Linked DNA regions of Homo sapiens. The protein of the gene in region 3 interacts with the protein of the main gene of each other region in a pairwise test. Each region holds a gene or a part of one and is shown on either strand. Other genes may lie near its edges.

Region 1 (7,623 bases), on a different chromosome or scaffold from region 3:
TAAGAAGAGTGTCAAAAATGTCCTCGGCATTTGTTTTCTCAGAAAAAGAATTTAGATATTGGAGAAATTATCATACCATAAAAAGTTCAAAATGTGATTCATCTAAAATTTTGGACAAAGATGAAAATATAGTCAGCTCTGTTCTAGTGTTCATTTAGTTAGAAACCATAGTACCGGAACTGTATTATAGTAGAAGTTAATGGTACCTAAACTCTAAGGAATGCTTTTTCTTTGAAAACAGAAATATTTTTACTTATTTCTGTCCACTATGTTTGTGTGTATGTGTGTGTTTGTGTGTGTATGTGTGGTTTTGATGCCAGCAATGCAAACACCAATATATCTATTAAGAAGTGATTGAATTTAGATTGGAAAAAATAAAATAGTTACATGTAAAGACATAAACTCTTTCCTTCTTAAATGTGATTTTCAACTCTATGATAGAAACTCCCTCTAAAAAACAAGCAGGGCAAGAACAAACTTACTTGTAATGGGTGAGAGAAAATAAGCAAATCTCATTGGCTCATTCCTGTTTTTAGGAAGTTGCAGTGGGATTAATGTCAATTGGAAGGGATGCAGCAAGTTTAGAGAAGGTGTTGGCACTAACGCTGCTTGTTTGGCAAATCATCATCACTGAGGTATTCCACCCAGAGACTTTTTCAAAAAAGTCAACTAAAGTGCTAAGTCATAAGAGGAGAGCCATTATACCCGTTGTCTTTCTGGGCTCCTTGAGTTTATCTGGATTCCAACAGCACTTGGAAAGTACCGCCCTCCACTACCTCAAATGCAAACACAATCTCTGCCAGTAGACATTGGAATTAGACTTAGTGAAAACCAGGAAAAAAAAAAAAAACTAAAATATAACTCAGCCTTAGTTTGCAGACTCAACTGTCAACACTTTGAAACCCTACTCCATATTCAAGAGAGTCAACAGGCCCTATGTCACATTGTAGGCTAAGAAACCTCAGCTATGACTACTATTTCACTCAAAGTAAGACCATGTACATCCTGGATTTTGATATGCCTGCATTTTGGAAAAAAAAATTGAGGATTTAGCCCAGTCGCTTTCCCTTGATATAGCCTTGTTCTGAATTAAAATGGAAAAAATATTTCAATTATTTTCATCTTGTTCTCAACTGGATGTTAGTCAATGTGGTCTCTTTTTGAATATGTATCAAATATTAATGATCCATAATATTAGGGAGATAATTTTAAATGAAGTGATACGTGTCTAACTTACTTAAAGAATAAGTTTTTGGTTTTTGCTTTTAAAGACAACCAAATCTGATATTGTTCATCCTGATAAAAATAACAACTTTTAGTGCTTAAAGCATTAATTAAGCAAGTGGCTAGGTATGATAAAGAACTTCTGCTTGCTCCCCAAGAGGCAAACTATTAGAAGAACTGGAGCGGGAGTCCTTTGGACCCATCGTGGATCTCTTTAAGCCACTGCTACCCAAAAACATTCAGGACAAGCAAACATTTAGAGCAAGAATCTCCAAATTCTTCAGGATTTGTAATGAAATGATGTTCAGTTCCATTTTGCTCTTTACATAGGGTGGAGAATTGTCATGTCTTCTCTAATTTTTCCAAGTAAAGTGGTAGCAAAATGTTTTAAAAAGCAATCTTATATTAGAAAACAAAAATGTTGTCACTTGAAATACCAAAACAACATTTCTGAGCGTTGTTGAGGGACTGGCAAAGCAATCAGCTACTATAACAAATCAGTAGAAATAACCCTCCCACACCAGATATGCATGCAGAAGGAATGGAGTATTATAGAGACTTGATACAATGGACATATGCACATGGAGGTACAAAACACACAGTCTAAATACAAATGAATTCCATCAGATTTACTATACGGAACATCAGTAGTGACAGATTGCACTTCTTACTTAATAACAGCAAACTTAATTTCTGAGGGGAAAAAAATGGCGAAGTCTTATCCCAAACAAATAGCAAGAGAGGTATCATCAAAGAGCTAAAATTTTCTTTGGCATGGTAAAGGGGGAAATTGAGTTTACCAACTTATTTACATGACATTTCTCTATATTGGTGAGTAATGCAATGCCATTTTGTTACATAAAGTTGTTTGATGTTTTTTAATATGCCTTCATATAAATATTTTATTCAATATGTTGTATTTGTGAATTTAACAAATGATATTAAACACAAACTACAATGCAGACAGACAAACTCTTTGTATGCAAATTAGCAATACATACCAACAGTTCTTGATACACAGGTACCTACTACATGCAGCTCATCATTGCTGTCCTCTTCCCATGCTACAGGTGAGACCAGACACAAAGTAAATGACCTAACTCAATTACAAATAACAAGGACCCCTCTGCAATATGTCTAAACATATATTAGAAGAAAGTATTTGACATCCTTCATAGGGATAAATGCCCTTATAGACACCCCATATATAAAACACAACAGAGATACACATTTACATAAATCTCAGTCATTTACAAAAATAAATCTTGTCTTAATTTAAACCAATAAACAGACTTGCAGGGGAAAAAGAAACCAGCAAGTAGGGCTAATTATCAGTAACAAATAGATGGGGGTGTTTGCTCTGTGTGTGTGTGTGTGTGTGTGTGTGTGTGTGTGTATATGTGTGTGTTTGTGTGAAGTGAAGTGTTGCTGCTGTAAGTAGTGTCCATAAGCCCATTTGACTGTATTACAAGTTAGTTAATTACTCATATAGTTGGCCACATATTATGGGATCTATGTTTTCTGAAAATAATTGGTTAATGGAAGTTATCTAATATATTTTAACTGTTCCTGTTAAAAACAATAGGCTTCAAGATGACATAACACCAAATCAAAAATGACCAAAGGAATCATTTTGTTTGTTAGATTTGTAATTTAGCATCATTGGCAATAAATCTACTCAAACGTTCTGCTAACTTTTTATTTATTCAAGTAGAATCCAATATGAAAATGAAATAAGCATAAACAAACAGTTAAATTTCTACTAAACCTTTAATCAGCTAAGCAGGCCAGAATTTTTTAATGCTGGGCAAGGGCTGTCATGAAGAAGATTTATGAAAGCAGTGACAAAATAATTTCCCAATAAATACAGTGCAGATGGGGAAAATGATGACTGGGTCATCCTCCCACATAGAAAGAATAACAAGAGGCCAGTACATTGATCCCACATATAATTTTCAATAAATGAGGTTCAGTTTGGTCTCAATGAACTCTTCTGAGAAGAAAACATTGAATTTTATTAGGTGTACACAGAGTTAACAAATAAATTCCCAAACAGTTTAGTATGAAACATTTTGAACCCCTTTAGATCCAATATTGAACATTTTGCATGGAATCTTCATTGTGTAGTCAACTGTTCCTGGCCTTTCTTGGTAGTTGTCTTCCCTAAGCTCAAACAAACAGTGTTAAACTAAAAAGGAAATTAAGAATGCAAAATAAAAGAAAATAAATGGAATGGACCAAAATCCTCATGGATGAATGTGTTGGTTTGCCTTTATTTTCATCTAGGATAATTCAACAGACTGTATTCTGAGATCATGGCAAGGCACCTCTAACCCAGCCACTGGGCAACATGAGCCCCAGATGCTGAGCTAGAGGCATGTACTGGTGAAATACACAGTACCGGACTCAGCATGCTGAGCTAAAAAAAATATTTTTCCTAATATGTCCAGTTTAAAAACTTGTCATTAAACACCAAAAATATTAAAGTCTAATTAATTTATAACTAACGTTTGCATTGCTGCTGCAGGAAAGAACACAACAGCCGTCTTGCCCATGCTCTGCTGAGTATGAGGGGAACGCAGCCAGAAACGGGGATGGCGTTAAGTTTGGTTCATTAAAAACAGGACGGAGTATATCTGAAATGGATTTAGGTAGCGCAATTCTTGTAGGTTATAATTACTGATTTTCCTTTTTTTTTTTTTCCAAATAATGAGAATTAATAGATGAAAAATGAACCTTAATCAGGCCTACAAGGCCTACAGAAATCTTTGGACCCACTTTCTCAAAAACCAGTGGGTCTTGCTCGCTGGGCAAGGCAAATGTTACCATTACCAGTAAGCTTGTGATATGTATAAAACACACACACACAAAGAAACTAGAGGGGGATGTCAAACACATATCATAGAGAGCTTCCCTGGATTGTGTTTGAGCCATTTCCCACCCAGGCAATGCCGACCTTGGGAGCACAGTATCTGCTACTGGACAGAGCGTATATGTGTGTTTAATCGATAGTGTGAGCCAGAGACAACAATCTTTCTTAATCTTTCTTTATAGATGCAATTTGTAATAATAGGTTTAGAAGGCTTCCTGATTCCCTGATTGCTCTCCGACCTAAGCCAACTGCAACATTTAAGATTTAGAGGAACAAAATCCCTGCAAAAGGTCACAGACAGTGGAGCGAGCAGCCCTGTAAAAATGGGAAGAAGAGAAATCCGTAATAGCACAGGTTTACAGCGTCTAACTAGAAATTACTCAATATTATTTGTGTGCTACAAAATTGAACTTAAACACATAGATTTCGCTGAAACAGGACTCAAAAAGGATTATGGGTAGCTGTCAGCAGGCAAGGTATCGAGTGTACTTGTGAAGTATGTCATTCACATGAAGTGTCACAGTCACAGAAAAGATATTAAAAAGGCATTCCATATCTGGTAGGGCATTCCATGGTCTGAGTTTAGCTGGTTATCCAGGTGTCTTCTTGTTGTGGGGGGTGCAACAGGTTGAGATTTATCCACTTGCAACAGAGAAGTTCGGAGACAGCAAAGAATAAGCATTAGCTTACTTCCTGCTGCTCTTCAGCCACGGAGCAGGAATGTCTGGTGAGGATAAATCACTCAACTGTGCTCAGGACGAATAAGTCACAACACCTGTGAGGATCTGGCTATGTTGTCTTACTCTTGTTGACTGGTTTGCCTCCATTCATTATTGCAGACGCACTTGTGCTTTTACTTGGCGTCACCCCAGGCTTCGGGACCGTTTCCCCAACATCATGCAAAGATGGTTCTCGGTACATGGCAACTAGTGATGGGAAGAAAGGAGGAGGAAAAGCAAACATTGCTTGGTTAGGTGTGAGAATGGTCCATCCATACCTGCATAGACCACTGCAGTTTGCCCATTTCTGTTTTCCCTGAAGTAAAGCAATTCCATTGAGACAGAATTCCTGTTGTAAAGCAATCATTTCCAGCCCACAGAGGACATTACTCCCTTCACATTCTCTGGTCTGTATACCTAAAATATGTATATGAGTGTGCATGGATTTTTGTCTAGGACAGCAGGTTTAAATGGGAGCTATGGCCTCTTTGTGGGTCCATGATGTAAAACACACACACACACACACACTATAGGAGAATGACAGGCATTTAACTTAATTCTCAAAAAAAGAAAACTCAGACATCCCTTCCACTGCACATTAATATCAACACATGAACTTCTCATTCACTTCAATCAATCTTTGTGAGCTGCGGTATTTACATCCTAGAACATTAAATTACTTTCTTTCATGTGGTTCAAAAGCAACATAGTCATACTAGTGTCAACTTCAAAGCTACACAAAATAATAACAAATAACTCTCTTCCCATAAGCCAGAGCCTTCAGGAGATTATCATTTCAATGTTCATTTCCTACAATCATGGAAAAAGACCCTTGGGCAGCAGAAGGCAACTCATTTTCTGCTATGTTATTAAAAATCTAATAATTGACATGATACAGGGGCAGAAAACAGAATGGCAAGACAGCAACTGAAACTACCTGAATAAACTCTGAGGATTTATCTAAATAGTGTCTGGTGGCATAATCATAGTAGTTCACGTGGCTTTTTAGAAAATGATTTCTGGAAGTCCTGAGAAAGGACATATAAGAGTGACTGATGGTTGGGGAAAACTAGGGATTAAAGTCATCTGCCATCAGAAATACAAGTGCATTAGAGCTGCCCAAACTGCTTTTTAGGTTTTTGAAAGTTTAAGGTATTTTACGAAGAGCCCTTAGATTTAGTTAAGATGAACTACCATATGCATTCCCTATGTTCAAGGGGGTAGAATGTGGCCTTTAGTATCAATGCATCACGTGAGTTTTCATCAGCACACATACTTGAAAGTGCAAATGTACATAAGGTTTCTATTAAATTACTTGCTAAGGTAGCAAAAGGAACTAATGCGTATCCTGAAAGCACATTCCAATCCCTCACTCCTATTACTAATTAAATTAGCAGACAAAAGCATGAAGCATTGACCTTGATTTTCTATGTAGTGAAGTTGTATCGTCCAACAATGATAGACTGGATTAAGCAAATGTGGCACATATACACCATGGAATACTATGCAGCCATAAAAAATGATGAGTTCATGGACATGGATGAAGCTGGAAACCATCATTCTCAGCAAACTATCTCAAGGACAAAAAACCAAACACCACATGTTCTCACTCATAGGTGGGAACTGAACAATGAGAACACTTGGACACAGGAAGGGGAACATCACACACACGGGCCTGTTGTGGGGTGGGGGGATGGGGGAGGGATAGCATTAGGAGATATACCTAATGTAAATGACAAGTTACTGGGTGCAGCACACCAACATGGCACATGTATACATATGTCACAAACCTGCACGTTGTGCACATGTACCCTAGAACTTAAAGTATAATAATAAAATATATATATATATATATATATATATATATATATAAAACAAAGATATGAATGCCCTAGAGTACCAATAATTAACCAGGTACTTAATTTGTCAAACATTTCCAATAACATTATTTATATTCGGTATGGGTTTTGAAAGTTTGAAATTAATTTTCCTCTATCAAGTAAACAATGTGATAATCTCTGTCGTTATAGTACCTACCCCCTTAACTGTTTTTAGAGTACTTCTGCTAATTTTTTGAAAACATAAAAAGTATTATTTCTCTCTTTCTCATATATATATATGTATATATACACACAAAACACTCATATACACATAACAAATACATGAGTGAAATACCAAGTATCATTCTATACCACATCATTGTTGTCTCAGATATTTTCTATGAGATATGCAAAATAACTGGTTCCCAAATTTTACCTCGGTTAAATGACATAACAGCCCTTTTGGGTTTTGTTACATTTATGCAGCTAAAGGGTAAGGTTCTAAAAATCTAGTCAATTCTTAACTATTTACAAAACATAAAATGAGTGAAAAGAGATAAAGCACGGTGGCAAATAAACAATGGTCTTATTAGAGCTTCTGTGGGCTTATTTTTTAATTTTTTATTTGCATTTAAATATAGGTGAGTCCAATGTTATCAAAATTTATTTAAAACAATGAAAGTGTATCATGGATGTGTTTTTTTTGGGAGGAACAGGGAAATCCTCTAACTTCTTTCTACTCTAATCATCCTTATGATCCACCATATACTGAGAATAATTCACTCATATTTCAGACTCTGGAATAATCTGTCTTTTCCTGTATAGGCCCTGGTAGCTAACTGTTTGGGTTTCAATAAATTGTTCTACAGAAAAATATAATTAAGAGTGACACTAAGTCAACATCATTGAAATTACAGAAGTAGTATTAGCCAACAAGAGCGATTTTCTGAATTTAGGCAAATTGAAAATTATACACTCACAGATGATG
Region 2 (7,623 bases), on a different chromosome or scaffold from region 3:
AAAAGGCTGAAAACTACAAATTTTGCTATTATTATTGTTATTACTTCCCAAGTCTCTTATTGATCTGTTAGAAATAGAGCTACACAGGAAATTGTAGGACAGTTAGTATGTGGTAGTGTTATCTGCTTTTTAATTATTCAAGTAAGGTTTTATTCCATTAGAGGAACTCAAGAAGTTGGTCATGGCTGATAATTGCTATCTGTCAAATTCCTTAGAGCAGGGATCCGCAACACCCAGGCCATGGATTGTTACCAGTCCCTGGCCTGTTAGGAACCAGGCTGCACAGTAGGAAGTGAGCGGCGGGTGAGCAAACATTGCCATCTGAGCTCTGTCTCCTTTCAGATCAGCAGCAGCATTAGATTCTCATAGAAGCATGAGCCCTGTTGTGAACTGCACATGCAAGGGATCTAGGTTGTGTGCTCCTTATGAGAATCCAATTCCTTATGATAATTTAACTGATGATCTAAGGTGGAACCATTTCATCCCAAAACCATCCACCCTGCTACTCCCAGACCGTGGAAAAATTGTCTTCCACAAAACTGGTTCCTGCTGCCAAAAAGGTTGGGACCACTGCCTTAGAGTTTATAATTTGGGGTTAGCACAGCCTATATTTACCTGAGAATTTCAATGGGTTCACTGATCTTTCCAAATGAAAAGGCTTCTTACGAAAATTATATCCAAACTGTCTTTTCTCTTAGTTTAATAAACCTATCAGTAAGTTTTTACTGAGTACTGCTATTACATTTTTCTCTGTTAAGCATTATGGGGGCTCAGACATGATCCATTCCCTCAAAGAACTTACCTTTCAGCTGAAGACTGACTAGAATGAGCAAATACGGTTAACAATTAACAAGTGAGTAGGCCAGCTCGGCCAACATGGTGAAACCCTGTCTCTACTAAAAATACAAAAATTAGCCGGGCATGGTGGTGGGCGCCTGTAATCCCAGCTACCTCCTGCTGAGGCAGGAGAATTGCTTGAACCCAGGAGGTGGAGATTGCAGTGAGCCGAGATTGCACCATTGCACTCCAGCCTGGGCGACAGAGCAAGACTCTGTCTTGGGAAAAAAACAAAACAAAACAAGTGAGAAGGGAATCAAGTACTACGTAAGATGTAATGTGGAATTTTAGGGAAGGAAGGCAGTGTATGCTGGAGTAATTAGAGAAAGGGGCATGCATGATTTGATGCTTGAACTGGATCATGAAGGATAAGCAAGATTTTGGCAGCAAGTGAGAGGGAGAGAGGAGTTTGTCAGAGGAATGGAACAAGTCAGGAGGCAGTAATGTGTACGGCACTCCAAGGACTCTGTCCTGATCGGAGCAGAAGTGATGAAGCATTGAGTAGTTTGAGAAAGTTAGCTAAGAAGGGTGAGGGCAGATGTTGGAGAGAGTTGAGTATCAGAGAGAAGACATTAGATTTGAGCAGATAGAACAAAAATGCCATTGCCAGTTTTTGTGTAAGAGAATAGTATTAGGGTGGTTACCCAGGAAGTGGTCATCAGAGTTGAATGGAGCAGAAAGAGTGTCTGATACAGCATCGGGACGTTGTGGTCACAAAATGAGGTGGTGAGGGCTGAGCCAAGATGGTGGCAGTGGGATGGATAAAAAGGGATGGCCAGGACAAATATTTTAAAGGAAAAATTAACAGGACATCTTTACTGACTGGATTGGAAGGCTATGCAGGAAATATATTGTCAAACTTGATTCCAGGATTTCTATCCTATGCCTGGGTTGCCCAAAATATCAGGGAACCATTGTTAGAAAAGGTAGGAGATACCACTGTTCCAACAAAAAGTATTGAGTTTGGTGTTGCACCCACTTAACTTCAAGGCCTTACAAGTGAGTAGACAGTTAGTTAGAATTGCAGAAGTGCCACTCAGAGAGCAGGGCTTGCAATGTGGGGTTGGACTTTGTCACCATTGTGTTAATTCCTAATTCTATGCAGATGCTCAGCTTGAGGAATACCCATGTTTGGGCTTCAGAATGAAAGCCAAGTAATATTTACTCAGATGCCAATTTTCCCTCTGAAATATTTGCTCATGGAACTGAGAGAACAATATATAAAGCATTAATTATTTTTCTCATAAAGTTATTAATAAAAAGATAAGATCAGTGAAAGGCAGAGTAAACTAGAAGCCAAGTATAGAAAATGGTATCATTCAAAGACTCATTACTGTAGTGGTGAAAACAAAACAATTTTCCAACAGCTTAAGATGCCTCAGTATTTTGGACCATTTTTAAGTAGTTAGTGTGGGCACTTAGTAAATATGTATTAAACTATAGTTCATTAATTCTTTTTTTTTTTTTTTTGAGATGGAGTTTCACTCTGGTCACCCAGGCTGCATTTTTGCTTTCTTAGTGATATATAAAATGTCGAGTTTCACAATGATGGTATCTTAGATTTGATTAAATATGGTATTAAAAAATAGCTGATCACAGAAAGTCTCTACCAGTGTGATGTAGATGGCTAAAGTATTCCACATTTGCAAACTTTTATTGACCTAAATAAGAGGTGCCCCTTGGGTTGTTTTTATTTGGACTGGGAATATTAGGAGAAAGCTTTTTCATTCAGTGTGTAAGTACAATCTACCAGAAATAGAAACCCCCATGGACGATCTATTTCTTTGATGGTACAGGACTCAGAACATTCACAAAGATTTAGTTGTTAGCGGAATAGACATCTGTATTTTATTCAAACCAATTTTCCCTTCCTAATCTGAGAACATTGTGCAATCTAAGCAGTTCTAAGCATGTTTGCTATTCGTGCAAAGTGAGAGTAAATCTAAAAGAAATTTTTTTGTGTGTTTAGGGATGGTAATAAAGTCTCTTAGTGGTTGAAAATGTTATTTCTTACAAAAGTGGAGAACATTTGCTTTTCAATACCAGAGTTTTCAGCCATTTCTGCATTCTGACCTATTGACTGGAGGTAGGTTGCCTTTGAATTCAGTAAAACTTCATGGGCAGAAACACAGTTCCTTTTCCTACTTATTTGGATATCATGATGGCCATTGCATGTATGTGTCTTTTTGTAAGTCCATGCCTCAGAACTGAGAAGTAGGAATAAAATTAGGGTCAGGGCTGGGGATGCTACTCTTTGCTGCTGAGAAACACAATGCTTCAGGTAAGTGATTCTGAAGTCCTTCACCACCTGACGGTAACCTTGGGTTGGTCCATAGGTATGTTTTCATTTTGCTTGTTCATCCATTTTAATTGGCTTCCTAGAGCATGCTTGTAGATGTAGAGCCAAATTTAGAGTAGAGCAACCCTCTGGCAAACAGGAAGAGATTAATTTTGTGGTATGCTTTTAAGGGACTTCCCAGGAAACTTCAAAAGCAGAAAAAGAAGCACTAGCTGCCTATTCCAAAATGTGTAAAACACCACTCAGCTTTTTAAAAGTAGGATAAACTCAGAGCGCGCGCACACGCGCGCGCGCACACACACACACACACACAGAGAGAACATCTCTAGTAAAAAGAAAAGTTGAGCTTTCTTAGCTAGATGTGTGTATTAGCCAGAAAAAGCCAAGGAGTGAAGGGTTTTAGAGAACTGGAGGAGATAAAGTGGAGTCTGCATATGGGAGGCATTTGAAATGGACTTAAATGTCTTTTTAATGCTGACTTTTTCAGTTTTCTCCTTACCAGACACATTGTTTTCATGACATTAGCCCCAGGCATAGACACATCATTAAAATGAACATGTCAAAAAATGATTTCTGTTTAGAAATAAGCAAAACATTTTCAGTTGTGACCACCCAGGTGTAGAATAAAGAACAGTGGAATTGGGAGCCCTGAGTTCTAACATAAACTTTCTTCATGACATAAGGCAAGTCTTCTATGGCCTTTGGTTTCCTTACCTGTAAAACAGGATGGCTCAATGAAATTATCTTTCTTCTTTGCTATAATAGAGTATCTCTGTGGGAAGAGGAAAAAAAAAGTCAATTTAAAGGCTCCTTATAGTTCCCCAACTGCTGTTTTATTGTGCTATTCATGCCTAGACATCACATAGCTAGAAAGGCCCATCAGACCCCTCAGGCCACTGCTGTTCCTGTCACACATTCCTGCAAAGGACCATGTTGCTAACTTGAAAAAAATTACTATTAATTACACTTGCAGTTGTTGCTTAGTAACATTTATGATTTTGTGTTTCTCGTGACAGCATGAGCAGAGATCATTAAAAATTAAACTTACAAAGCTGCTAAAGTGGGAAGAAGGAGAACTTGAAGCCACAATTTTTGCACTTGCTTAGAAGCCATCTAATCTCAGGTTTATATGCTAGATCTTGGGGGAAACACTGCATGTCTCTGGTTTATATTAAACCACATACAGCACACTACTGACACTGATTTGTGTCTGGTGCAGCTGGAGTTTATCACCAAGACATAAAAAAACCTTGACCCTGCAGAATGGCCTGGAATTACAATCAGATGGGCCACATGGCATCCCGGTGAAAGAAAGCCCTAACCAGTTTTCTGTCTTGTTTCTGCTTTCTCCCTACAGTTCCACCAGGTGAGAAGAGTGATGACCATCCTTTTCCTTACTATGGTTATTTCATACTTTGGTTGCATGAAGGCTGCCCCCATGAAAGAAGCAAACATCCGAGGACAAGGTGGCTTGGCCTACCCAGGTGTGCGGACCCATGGGACTCTGGAGAGCGTGAATGGGCCCAAGGCAGGTTCAAGAGGCTTGACATCATTGGCTGACACTTTCGAACACGTGATAGAAGAGCTGTTGGATGAGGACCAGAAAGTTCGGCCCAATGAAGAAAACAATAAGGACGCAGACTTGTACACGTCCAGGGTGATGCTCAGTAGTCAAGTGCCTTTGGAGCCTCCTCTTCTCTTTCTGCTGGAGGAATACAAAAATTACCTAGATGCTGCAAACATGTCCATGAGGGTCCGGCGCCACTCTGACCCTGCCCGCCGAGGGGAGCTGAGCGTGTGTGACAGTATTAGTGAGTGGGTAACGGCGGCAGACAAAAAGACTGCAGTGGACATGTCGGGCGGGACGGTCACAGTCCTTGAAAAGGTCCCTGTATCAAAAGGCCAACTGAAGCAATACTTCTACGAGACCAAGTGCAATCCCATGGGTTACACAAAAGAAGGCTGCAGGGGCATAGACAAAAGGCATTGGAACTCCCAGTGCCGAACTACCCAGTCGTACGTGCGGGCCCTTACCATGGATAGCAAAAAGAGAATTGGCTGGCGATTCATAAGGATAGACACTTCTTGTGTATGTACATTGACCATTAAAAGGGGAAGATAGTGGATTTATGTTGTATAGATTAGATTATATTGAGACAAAAATTATCTATTTGTATATATACATAACAGGGTAAATTATTCAGTTAAGAAAAAAATAATTTTATGAACTGCATGTATAAATGAAGTTTATACAGTACAGTGGTTCTACAATCTATTTATTGGACATGTCCATGACCAGAAGGGAAACAGTCATTTGCGCACAACTTAAAAAGTCTGCATTACATTCCTTGATAATGTTGTGGTTTGTTGCCGTTGCCAAGAACTGAAAACATAAAAAGTTAAAAAAAATAATAAATTGCATGCTGCTTTAATTGTGAATTGATAATAAACTGTCCTCTTTCAGAAAACAGAAAAAAAACACACACACACACAACAAAAATTTGAACCAAAACATTCCGTTTACATTTTAGACAGTAAGTATCTTCGTTCTTGTTAGTACTATATCTGTTTTACTGCTTTTAACTTCTGATAGCGTTGGAATTAAAACAATGTCAAGGTGCTGTTGTCATTGCTTTACTGGCTTAGGGGATGGGGGATGGGGGGTATATTTTTGTTTGTTTTGTGTTTTTTTTTCGTTTGTTTGTTTTGTTTTTTAGTTCCCACAGGGAGTAGAGATGGGGAAAGAATTCCTACAATATATATTCTGGCTGATAAAAGATACATTTGTATGTTGTGAAGATGTTTGCAATATCGATCAGATGACTAGAAAGTGAATAAAAATTAAGGCAACTGAACAAAAAAATGCTCACACTCCACATCCCGTGATGCACCTCCCAGGCCCCGCTCATTCTTTGGGCGTTGGTCAGAGTAAGCTGCTTTTGACGGAAGGACCTATGTTTGCTCAGAACACATTCTTTCCCCCCCTCCCCCTCTGGTCTCCTCTTTGTTTTGTTTTAAGGAAGAAAAATCAGTTGCGCGTTCTGAAATATTTTACCACTGCTGTGAACAAGTGAACACATTGTGTCACATCATGACACTCGTATAAGCATGGAGAACAGTGATTTTTTTTTAGAACAGAAAACAACAAAAAATAACCCCAAAATGAAGATTATTTTTTATGAGGAGTGAACATTTGGGTAAATCATGGCTAAGCTTAAAAAAAACTCATGGTGAGGCTTAACAATGTCTTGTAAGCAAAAGGTAGAGCCCTGTATCAACCCAGAAACACCTAGATCAGAACAGGAATCCACATTGCCAGTGACATGAGACTGAACAGCCAAATGGAGGCTATGTGGAGTTGGCATTGCATTTACCGGCAGTGCGGGAGGAATTTCTGAGTGGCCATCCCAAGGTCTAGGTGGAGGTGGGGCATGGTATTTGAGACATTCCAAAACGAAGGCCTCTGAAGGACCCTTCAGAGGTGGCTCTGGAATGACATGTGTCAAGCTGCTTGGACCTCGTGCTTTAAGTGCCTACATTATCTAACTGTGCTCAAGAGGTTCTCGACTGGAGGACCACACTCAAGCCGACTTATGCCCACCATCCCACCTCTGGATAATTTTGCATAAAATTGGATTAGCCTGGAGCAGGTTGGGAGCCAAATGTGGCATTTGTGATCATGAGATTGATGCAATGAGATAGAAGATGTTTGCTACCTGAACACTTATTGCTTTGAAACTAGACTTGAGGAAACCAGGGTTTATCTTTTGAGAACTTTTGGTAAGGGAAAAGGGAACAGGAAAAGAAACCCCAAACTCAGGCCGAATGATCAAGGGGACCCATAGGAAATCTTGTCCAGAGACAAGACTTCGGGAAGGTGTCTGGACATTCAGAACACCAAGACTTGAAGGTGCCTTGCTCAATGGAAGAGGCCAGGACAGAGCTGACAAAATTTTGCTCCCCAGTGAAGGCCACAGCAACCTTCTGCCCATCCTGTCTGTTCATGGAGAGGGTCCCTGCCTCACCTCTGCCATTTTGGGTTAGGAGAAGTCAAGTTGGGAGCCTGAAATAGTGGTTCTTGGAAAAATGGATCCCCAGTGAAAACTAGAGCTCTAAGCCCATTCAGCCCATTTCACACCTGAAAATGTTAGTGATCACCACTTGGACCAGCATCCTTAAGTATCAGAAAGCCCCAAGCAATTGCTGCATCTTAGTAGGGTGAGGGATAAGCAAAAGAGGATGTTCACCATAACCCAGGAATGAAGATACCATCAGCAAAGAATTTCAATTTGTTCAGTCTTTCATTTAGAGCTAGTCTTTCACAGTACCATCTGAATACCTCTTTGAAAGAAGGAAGACTTTACGTAGTGTAGATTTGTTTTGTGTTGTTTGAAAATATTATCTTTGTAATTATTTTTAATATGTAAGGAATGCTTGGAATATCTGCTGTATGTCAACTTTATGCAGCTTCCTTTTGAGGGACAAAT
Region 3 (8,246 bases):
GTGGAAGAACGCGGACCAGCCCGTGGAGATGGACCCACAGAAGGGGCCAGCCTGGTGCTTTGCTGTCTCTCTGTTCGGTGCTGGTTCACCAAGCGCCTTCCCCTGCTTCTGGGTTCTAGCCCACCTGAGACTTTTCCCTGTTTATTCCCTGGCATTATGAAGTCATCTCTGGAAACTGAAATCATACTAAAAATGTATTATATTGACTGAAGGCATATTTCTTGATCTTAATTTAAAACTGATGTTTCACGTTTCTTCTAAAAAAGTGGGGGCGGTGCAAAGACTAAGTTACTTATCTTTTCTGACTCTGCTCTTCTTAACAGAAGACAGAACCCTCCTCCCACTTTCAAGGTGTTACAACTGAACTCAAGGTGCAGCTGGAGTAACACCCTCCTGCACAAGTGTCCGGTCAGCACCCCTTTCCCACCTCGAGGGCCCCGCCTGAGCCCAGAGACACCGCGAACAACAAAGATGGCTTGGGCAGAGTTGGAGTTTATTTGCTGCAGTTCCTTGGCGCTAGTTTACAAGGCAAAAACAAACAAACAAAAACAATTAGAATAATTATTTCTTAAAAACCCTGTCAACAACTTTCAGTCATTTCTTTATATTTTTGTATTTTGACAAAACTTCTTTTAAACAAATACAAAATAATCTAAAAGGAGAAAAACTATACATAGATTATTTACACCTCTGATAAATAGACTAATACTGACCCAGGTGCCTCTCTGTCTAGGAAACACTTGAGAACCAGGCCAGGGCCCGGGCCAGCTGGACAGGCTCCAGCACCGGCCCAAACACGCCCAGACCTCGGCAGGCACCACCTGGTTCTCCCACCCAGAAAGTTCAGGTTTCCAGCCTGGACCCTCTTCTGTCACCCTCACAAGCTCTGGCACAAAAGTGCCTAAAGCCATTCCCTCCAGGTAGGATCTACACAAAGTGGCGGGGAGGGAGGTGACAGACTGTCCCCCTCTATTCCTCCCACCACTCCTCTGCAAAAGCTATTTCCAGAGATGCTCGCCAACCCTAAAGGATCAGAGGAGCCGTGGCGACGCGGCCCTGTGAAAACCCGCAGCTCCTCCACCTGCCTCCTCAGGGCTGCGCCCTGCACCGCCCTGGTCCAGGGTCCTGTGGAGGGGCGGGGCGAGACGGCCAGACAGCCAGCCACCTGCTCTGCCTGGACTGGCATGCTGGCCCTGGCGGAGTGGCAGGAGCTGCCCTGAGAGTCCCTGAGAGAACGGCAGGAAAATGCTGCGTGTCACGGCTCCCTTCATACTGTAATGAGGAGGGGCAGGGCCAGCTCACACAGCGCCTGCAGGGGAAGACAGAGATGCGAGAGGCAGCCCGGCCACCCCCCTCACTCCAGTGCACCCCACGGAGCAGATAAAGGCCCATCTTCCCCTCTAGGGGGCCCACCACAAAATGCATCCAGAGTAGTCCAGTTAGGGCTGGTTTTGAGGCAGAAAAAGCTGAAGCCCTACGGGGATCGGGGAAGTCCTACTCCTTCCTCTAGAACGAGGACTGGAGTCTGGGGAAGAGGAAGAAAACCCAAAATGAAACAGGTTATCCGGAACCTCTGTCCCGATAACCTTCCTCACAGTTTTGGTTATTAGGTATTTAGCTCAAGGAAAATGCTGACTTTCTACTTTAAAGCCCAACAAGAACTTGGATTCTGAAGGAGGAAAATAACGTAAGCGTCCAGTCAGCTCTCTCCTCTCCTCGGCGCTCCGCAGGCACTTGGGATGGAAAAGCATCCGCGGGAGATGCCGGACTGCACGCTGCTGCCGACTGCGACCCCGGCCAGGGCAGGCCCCCGACTCTGACTGTGCCGTCTGAGGCTCCACTGGGCCTCTGCCCTCTGCGTCCTCGACCTCACCTGTCCATCTCGCCCAGACAAGCACCAGGCAGCGAGCTCCCACAGCACAGGAGAGGCAGGCCAGGCCCTGCCGCGGGCCCAGGCTGATGCCCCTTGGCCGCAGCCCCAGGTGCTCTTCTCCAGGGAGAAGCTCCCCAGCGCAGCCAGGGCAGAATGCACCTGAACAGCCCTACGTTCTCTCTTAAAAAAAAAAAAATAGATCTTTATAGTATGTGGCTTCTCTTCCTTTCCACCTTTTTCTCTTAACATATAATAATATATGGACACATGTATTTATGGTGCAGGGTTTGAAGGCTTCTTCACGGGGACAACCAAGAGGTAAACAGTTGGCTCTGAGCTCTGCTACCAGAACACTGAGCAGAGAAACTGGCCAGGAGGCTGCCCTGCCGACAAGAGCTCTGCCCTGTGAGAGAGGAAGGCTCTGGAGCCCATGCTGGACAGGTGGCCGGTCCTCTCTTCCCCAGTGATAACTGCCCACCCTTCTCCCACTTAAAAAAAATAGCAAAAGCTGAAGCTAGTCTCTAGGAATCCAGGGCGGGGCCTGGCAGAGGACGCTCTGCTCGGCAGCAGTGCATCCATGGAGGTGCGGGAGAAGAGCAGGAGCTCCAAGGCCCCCGCAGACCAACGCCCTTGGCTGCACGCTCAGTGTCGCTTCGTGGAGGAGACCTTCTTTTTCCGTGCTGCGAGCATTTCGTAGAAAGGGTCCCTGCTGATGGCTGCTCTGGAGCACAGAAAAGGGAGAAAACAGAGACGTGAGGGACAGAATCAGAAGAAACACACCCAGGCAGGGGATTCTCAGGGGCCCCTCGTGCCCCAGAACACCTGTCCCACCCCACCATCACTGCAAAGGCCAAGTTAGCGTCCTCCACCCTTGCTGTGTCCACACAGTGACCTAAGGTGACACACTTCGAAAGAGACACAGGAACACGTGACAAGAAAATTTTGGGGTTTTTACCTGTTTCAACATAATAATCAATTCACATTTAGGAACAGAATCATACCACATTCTTACAGCTATATTCCAATTCAGAGAAAAAGACTGGTGCTTGAGTTTCCATGATGACATCTGACTTTGCTTTGCAGCAGCGAGTGCCACGTAATCAAGCCGTGTCACATGCAGTCCTCTGGCACGGGGTGTGTGATAGCTGGCATGGTAATGCAGTGGGGCCTTCCAAGCCCCCCACGTGCACCTGCTCAGTAACTAAGGCTCCATGACTCTGCAGGCGGCACTGCCCAGCACGATGCTGCTGGTGGGGCACCATGGACAGACCGGCTGGACCTGGCTGGGTCTCCGGTGCACAGGGAGGGGGCCCGAGCTCATGCTTGTGCTACAGCCTCAAAGACAGCAGCGCAGGCCGCGCCGCGGGCTGGAGCACCTGCAGTGGACTGGCAACACCACAACCCTATGTCTGCCATTCTCGACTTTCAAGCAACTTATGGTCTAAAAGTCCTGACACTTAATTTCTTTCCAGGGAAGCTGTATCCTAAGTGATGATTTGTTCCAGAGCTCGGGCACAAGCCTCCTGACTGCAGGCAGGGCACTCACCCCTGCTGAACGGTGGCACCAGCAGCTGCTATGGCTCTCCTGGGCTGACCTGGAACCTATTCACAAGAGACAGTGTGTCCATGAGAAAATGCTTCCGCAGCTCCCCGGGGAATGCTAGGAACTGAAGAGCACTAGAAACATGTCCCGATGGGATCTCACTGGGAAGCGGTCTGACCACCTGAAGTGCTTTCACGAGGGAATCTGGCGGCCGGGACACCTGCTTTCATGTTTGGAGGTGTTGGGGTGAATCTCCCTTGGCTTCCTGGGTAGGCCAACCCTTTCGGGTAAGCTGGGGGGTTCTGCAGAGAGGTGCGTGTGGCACTGCCCTGTGTGCAGAGGCAGAGTGTCAGGCGATGAGGGGGGCTGGGCTGCGGTCGGACACCAGGCCCCAGGCCCGGCCCTGCCTGGCCCTGCCTGCTGCTTCTCAACTCCCGCTTCCTCACATGCAAGCTGGAGATGCCCCACCTCCACCTCCCTGGGTTCCGGAGAGTCAAAAAGAGATCCCATATTCAAAGAGCACATCTCAGCGCCTAGCCGACACACTCGATGGCAGCCGCTGTTACCGCTGACACGCAGTTCTACTGCTGTACCTCTGGGTACAGCGTGAAGAAAGTCCCAGCATTAGAGAACACACCTGATTCTACAGAACCGAATGCTGGGACCACCCACACGCAGGGGCACTAGAACTGAGGGTGCTGGGAACTCCAGGAAAAGCACTTCGTGAGAGGAAAACACGTCCTGAACTTGACCTCGAAAGCCTTTCTGGCAATACTGGGGAGGAGGCATCCACCAGCCAGATCATCTTCCTGCTCCTGTTGTCACCAATGTTTCCACTGGGAGGAGTATCTAGGGCCAAGGACAGCTGAGGCTGCACGGTGGTTACCAGTGCAGCTGCATGAGTCACACTGCTCAGGTTTGAGGACCAGCTCCACCTCTGTGGGGTTTTGGACAACTTACTCAACTTTGCTGTGCCTCAGTGTCCCTCATCTGTGAAATGGGGATAATCCTAATGGTCCCACCTCGCACTGGGTGCAAGAAGGTTTGAGGACAGTGTGCCTGCAGAGTGCCAAAGGGGGTGTCTGCAGATCCCGAGGCTGAGGCCAGCCCGCTCCGGGACAGAGCAGAGGAGTCCAGCAAGCCCACAGGAGAACTTGGCACTCACGCTCATGAAAGGATTGAATGATTCTAAATGTGACTTTGAAAAATGCTTAGTTTTTCTGACTATAGAAGTAAAAACCATATGAAAGACACATGTACAAAACCAGCCAAAACTGTTTTGAAAGACCAGTGAGGGAGGACAGGGAACTCGCCAGCCAGCACAGTCAAAGGACACCACGATGCCACAGGGGGAGGGGCGGGCGGCGCTCACGCTGGGAGGCGCGGTGGAGCAACAGGTGCATGAAGCGTGGTGGGGGAGCTGGGTACACTCTAAGGAGAGCATATGAAGTCAGTGGGGGCGATGCCAATGAATCCATAAATGGTGTCCGGACCATCAGCTATTCATTCATGAGAACAAACTTAAACCCTTACTTCAAATCTTATATAAAAAATACATTTCATAATGATTCAATAAATTTTTTTTTCAGTATGTTAAAAAAAAGGATACCGGTCCCCCACAACACTGCTGTTTTCTTCCCCAGAACACAGGGCTGGTGCCATTACTGGTAGGGGACTCTGAAAACACCGTGGCACCGCGTCTGCTCAATGGAGGGTGGGCTGGCCCCCGCTCAGGGCCACACTTCCCATGATGGCTGTCATGCCAGGGAAGCTGCCAAACCCCATGCCCACTACACAATCTCATTTAATCCTCAAAAGAGCCCCATGAGGCAGAAATGACCTCTATCACACAGAAGAGGTAGGTTACCCACCTACCAGGCACTGCGCTCAGAGAGACAGAGCGAGGAGTCTCAGCGCAGCGTGACCTGGCGCCAAATCCATCCTCTCTCCAGCTGGTTCCTGTCTGTTTTCATTGCATGAATTTTCAGATTACTTTTGAGAGGATAAATCATCTATTCCTTTCCCTCCATCATCACATCATCTCCATCTTCAGTCAGTTTTAAGGTATTTAGCTTGGGCCAAAACCTACACTGGTCTGAGTAGAAATACCAAAAGATAAAACAAAGGCTAGAGGATATTGCACACCCTCGGGAACGGGGCTGTAGCCTGGGTGGGAGAAAGCCCGTCACACAGTACACAGAGGACTTACAGGGACCTTCGCAGTCACCTGTGGGCACATTCTCCCTGTCTTCCAGGTGAAGTCACACAGGCAGCTGAGGAGTCTTTCTCAGGAAAACAGCTAGGTGAACTCTCATGGATGAAGCACCAGGAGGGAGAGGGCAAGGCTGTGCTCTTAGGAGAAAGGATCACTGAGAGAAGGCAAAGTCAGAATGCTCACTGCTGACCCTCGCACAGGGACTGGAGGGAGGAGAAAGCATCACTGAGAGAAGGCAAAGTCAGAATGCTCACTGCTGACCCTCGCACAGGGACTGGAGGGAGAGCCAGGCAGACCAAGTCCCAGGGAAGAACATTAAGCAAGAGAAGCCAACTGACTTTAGAAAGCCATGTTTCCAGATACTTGTCACATGAGGAAATTTCCAGCCCCGTGATAGACCTTACATGGCGTGGCCCAGTGGAGCCAACAGAGCCGAGAGGTAGGAGTCAGAGGCCTGGACTTGGGAGCTCCACTTCTTAGCTGTGGAACCCTGAGGAAGCTTCTCCCTCCTCCCGGACCTTGGATCACGGTATGTGACTTCCAGCAAATTTCTTAACCTCTATGGGCCTCAGTTTCCTCATCTGTAGCTAGGAAAATGGTGTCTCACAGGATTCACAAATTACAGAACATGACTACTATCTCCTCTGAGCTGTCACTATGAGAATGAGAGCGGCTTCGTCAGACACAGAAAGACCAGTTGAGCAGATGGCATCTGTGTGGGTAGCTCACTCGCCTCTTCCTATTTTGGGTCTATGAGGACACGTGGGGAACCCAGATGGGACGTGCTCTCTTACATATGCTATAATAGCCAAGAATCCAAAGGCCTCCTGGGAAGCCGTCAGCTGGGAACCAGGACGAAGCTTCCCTAAGAACTTGGAGCACAGAAGAGATGCGGGCGGCATGTTTAACCACTAAGATGATCAACACCTGGTGAGGTGAGGGCTGCACCAGGCGCGCACTGCCCTTTCTCAGCAGTCACTTACTTAATGCACTTAATCCACTCCTCCTTCTCCTCGGGCGTCGGAGCTGAGATCCGGTAAACAGTGTGGTTCCCCTCCACCACCCGCCCGTCAGCCTCGGTCTTGCAGGCCTTGATAACTTGGTCTTTATTGTCGGGGATATAAAGCTCAAAGCAGTTCTGAGAATCAAAACAGAGAGGGAGAGAGTGGAGCAAAGGAAGCTGTTAACTGAGAAACATGCTGATTTCTTTCCCCAAAACCCCTTTCTTCTGACCTTCACAAAATACAAGGAATACATATTTTCCTGTGGAAAAGTGAAGCCTAGAAGCGGAATTCTAGAGACTGTAAATTGTATAGAAGTCAGTCTCGTTTGCAAACACACCGGCCTGATATAAGCTGGCCCCACTTGCAATGTACGTAAAATGCGGAGAGAACTGCAGGTGACTCACGACTTTAACTTCAAGCCAGTAACATCCTGACAGCCCAAAACAAAGGAAAACTAAACGGGAGGTGTCCCAAGGGTATAAACTACATAGCCCACTCCTGCGTGCTTGCCGCTGCCATTGCAGGAGGGGCAACTTCTACACCCCATGTGACATTCACTAAGTGAAACGATAAAGCAGACAGACGGCACAGGAAGAAGTGATTTCGAGTCTCATCTTTGGCTTGAACAATATAATAAAAAATTAGACTAAATAAAAGCCTGATCACGCTTTTCAGTTTTTTGGTTTTGAGTTTTTTAAAAAAAATCTTTGAAATGCCCATCCCCTTTCTCCCCTCAAAATATCTCAGCAAAAATACTCACTGGTTTTTTGGAGTCCTCCACTTCCCGGATACTCAGATTCTCTAAAGGGATGATTCCACGGGGCTCCTTATCCTACAGAACAGTTGAAGAGAGGAAGTTTAAGATCACAGTTTAAGGACACACACTGTCAGATTCCTCGCCGGTGACTCAGCCGAACTTTCCTGCTTTCTCCCAGGACATGAAGTTCATAAATCAGCCTGAGGGAACTCCTTACATTCTAAACAAGAATAACACCAAAAATGTCTGAGGATTGTCAATATAACTGCTAAGTCCTCCGCGAGTAGAAAGACCAGAAGATTCAACAGACACCGTGAGAGTGTGGCCGGCAGTGACCCGGGCACGGTCCTCAAGCAGGGAGTGTGCGGGCCCCTTTCCCTCTTCCCTTTGCCTGGCTCTCCCACTCACCTCTGAAGCCTCAGTTCTGGGGCAACAACTCCAGGAAGCCTTTCCTAGTTTCACCCTAGCGCCCCGATGCCTGGGACTGCAGCTGTGGGTCTGACCATTAACCACTCACTGCCTCTGTCCATCGCCCCACCGCCAGACAGTACAATCCTCAGAGACACTGCCATCCTGACAACTCCACCTGGATTTCCAAAGGCACCTTGACTCCTGTCCAGAACAGAGCTGCACCCGCCAACTAGTCCCATCTCATCTACAGAGGGCACGGCACCGCAGACACTTCCAGCACACGCCTGACGGCAGTTTCACAGTCCCCTGATATCCAGCCAACCCATGGCCAAGTCCTAGCACTGTTAAAGTCTTTATATTTGGCCAGGAGAATGGTGTGAACCCAGGAGACGGAGCCTGCAGTGGGCCCAGATAGCGCCACTGCACTCCAGCCTGGGTGACAG

What was found. The genes of interacting proteins can lie anywhere in the genome.
Region 1: the proteins of CYTH1 (region 3) and FGF14 interact in binary tests that used the Homo sapiens proteins (3 or more experiments, as listed by UniProt).
Region 2: the proteins of CYTH1 (region 3) and BDNF interact in binary tests that used the Homo sapiens proteins (3 or more experiments, as listed by UniProt).

Annotation. Positions count from the first base shown.
Region 1 is NC_000013.11:101,717,946-101,725,568, forward strand, and holds part of FGF14 (fibroblast growth factor 14), read right to left. Parts: intron 5,023-7,623; coding exon 4,886-5,022; 3' UTR 1-4,885. UniProt on the Homo sapiens protein: Probably involved in nervous system development and function.
Region 2 is NC_000011.10:27,655,456-27,663,078, reverse strand, and holds part of BDNF (neurotrophic factor BDNF precursor form isoform a preproprotein), read left to right. Parts: intron 1-2,806; exon of another isoform or gene 2,807-2,923; intron 2,924-3,420; exon of another isoform or gene 3,421-4,493; coding exon of another isoform or gene 4,494-4,514; coding exon 4,515-5,258; 3' UTR 5,259-7,623. UniProt on the Homo sapiens protein: Important signaling molecule that activates signaling cascades downstream of NTRK2. During development, promotes the survival and differentiation of selected neuronal populations of the peripheral and central nervous systems.
Region 3 is NC_000017.11:78,673,576-78,681,821, forward strand, and holds the end of CYTH1 (cytohesin-1), read right to left. Parts: intron 7,468-8,246; coding exon 7,396-7,467; intron 6,770-7,395; coding exon 6,615-6,769; coding exon of another isoform or gene 6,611-6,614; exon of another isoform or gene 3,476-6,610; coding exon of another isoform or gene 3,448-3,475; exon of another isoform or gene 2,595-3,447; coding exon 2,516-2,594; 3' UTR 473-2,515; downstream 1-472. UniProt on the Homo sapiens protein: Promotes guanine-nucleotide exchange on ARF1, ARF5 and ARF6. Promotes the activation of ARF factors through replacement of GDP with GTP.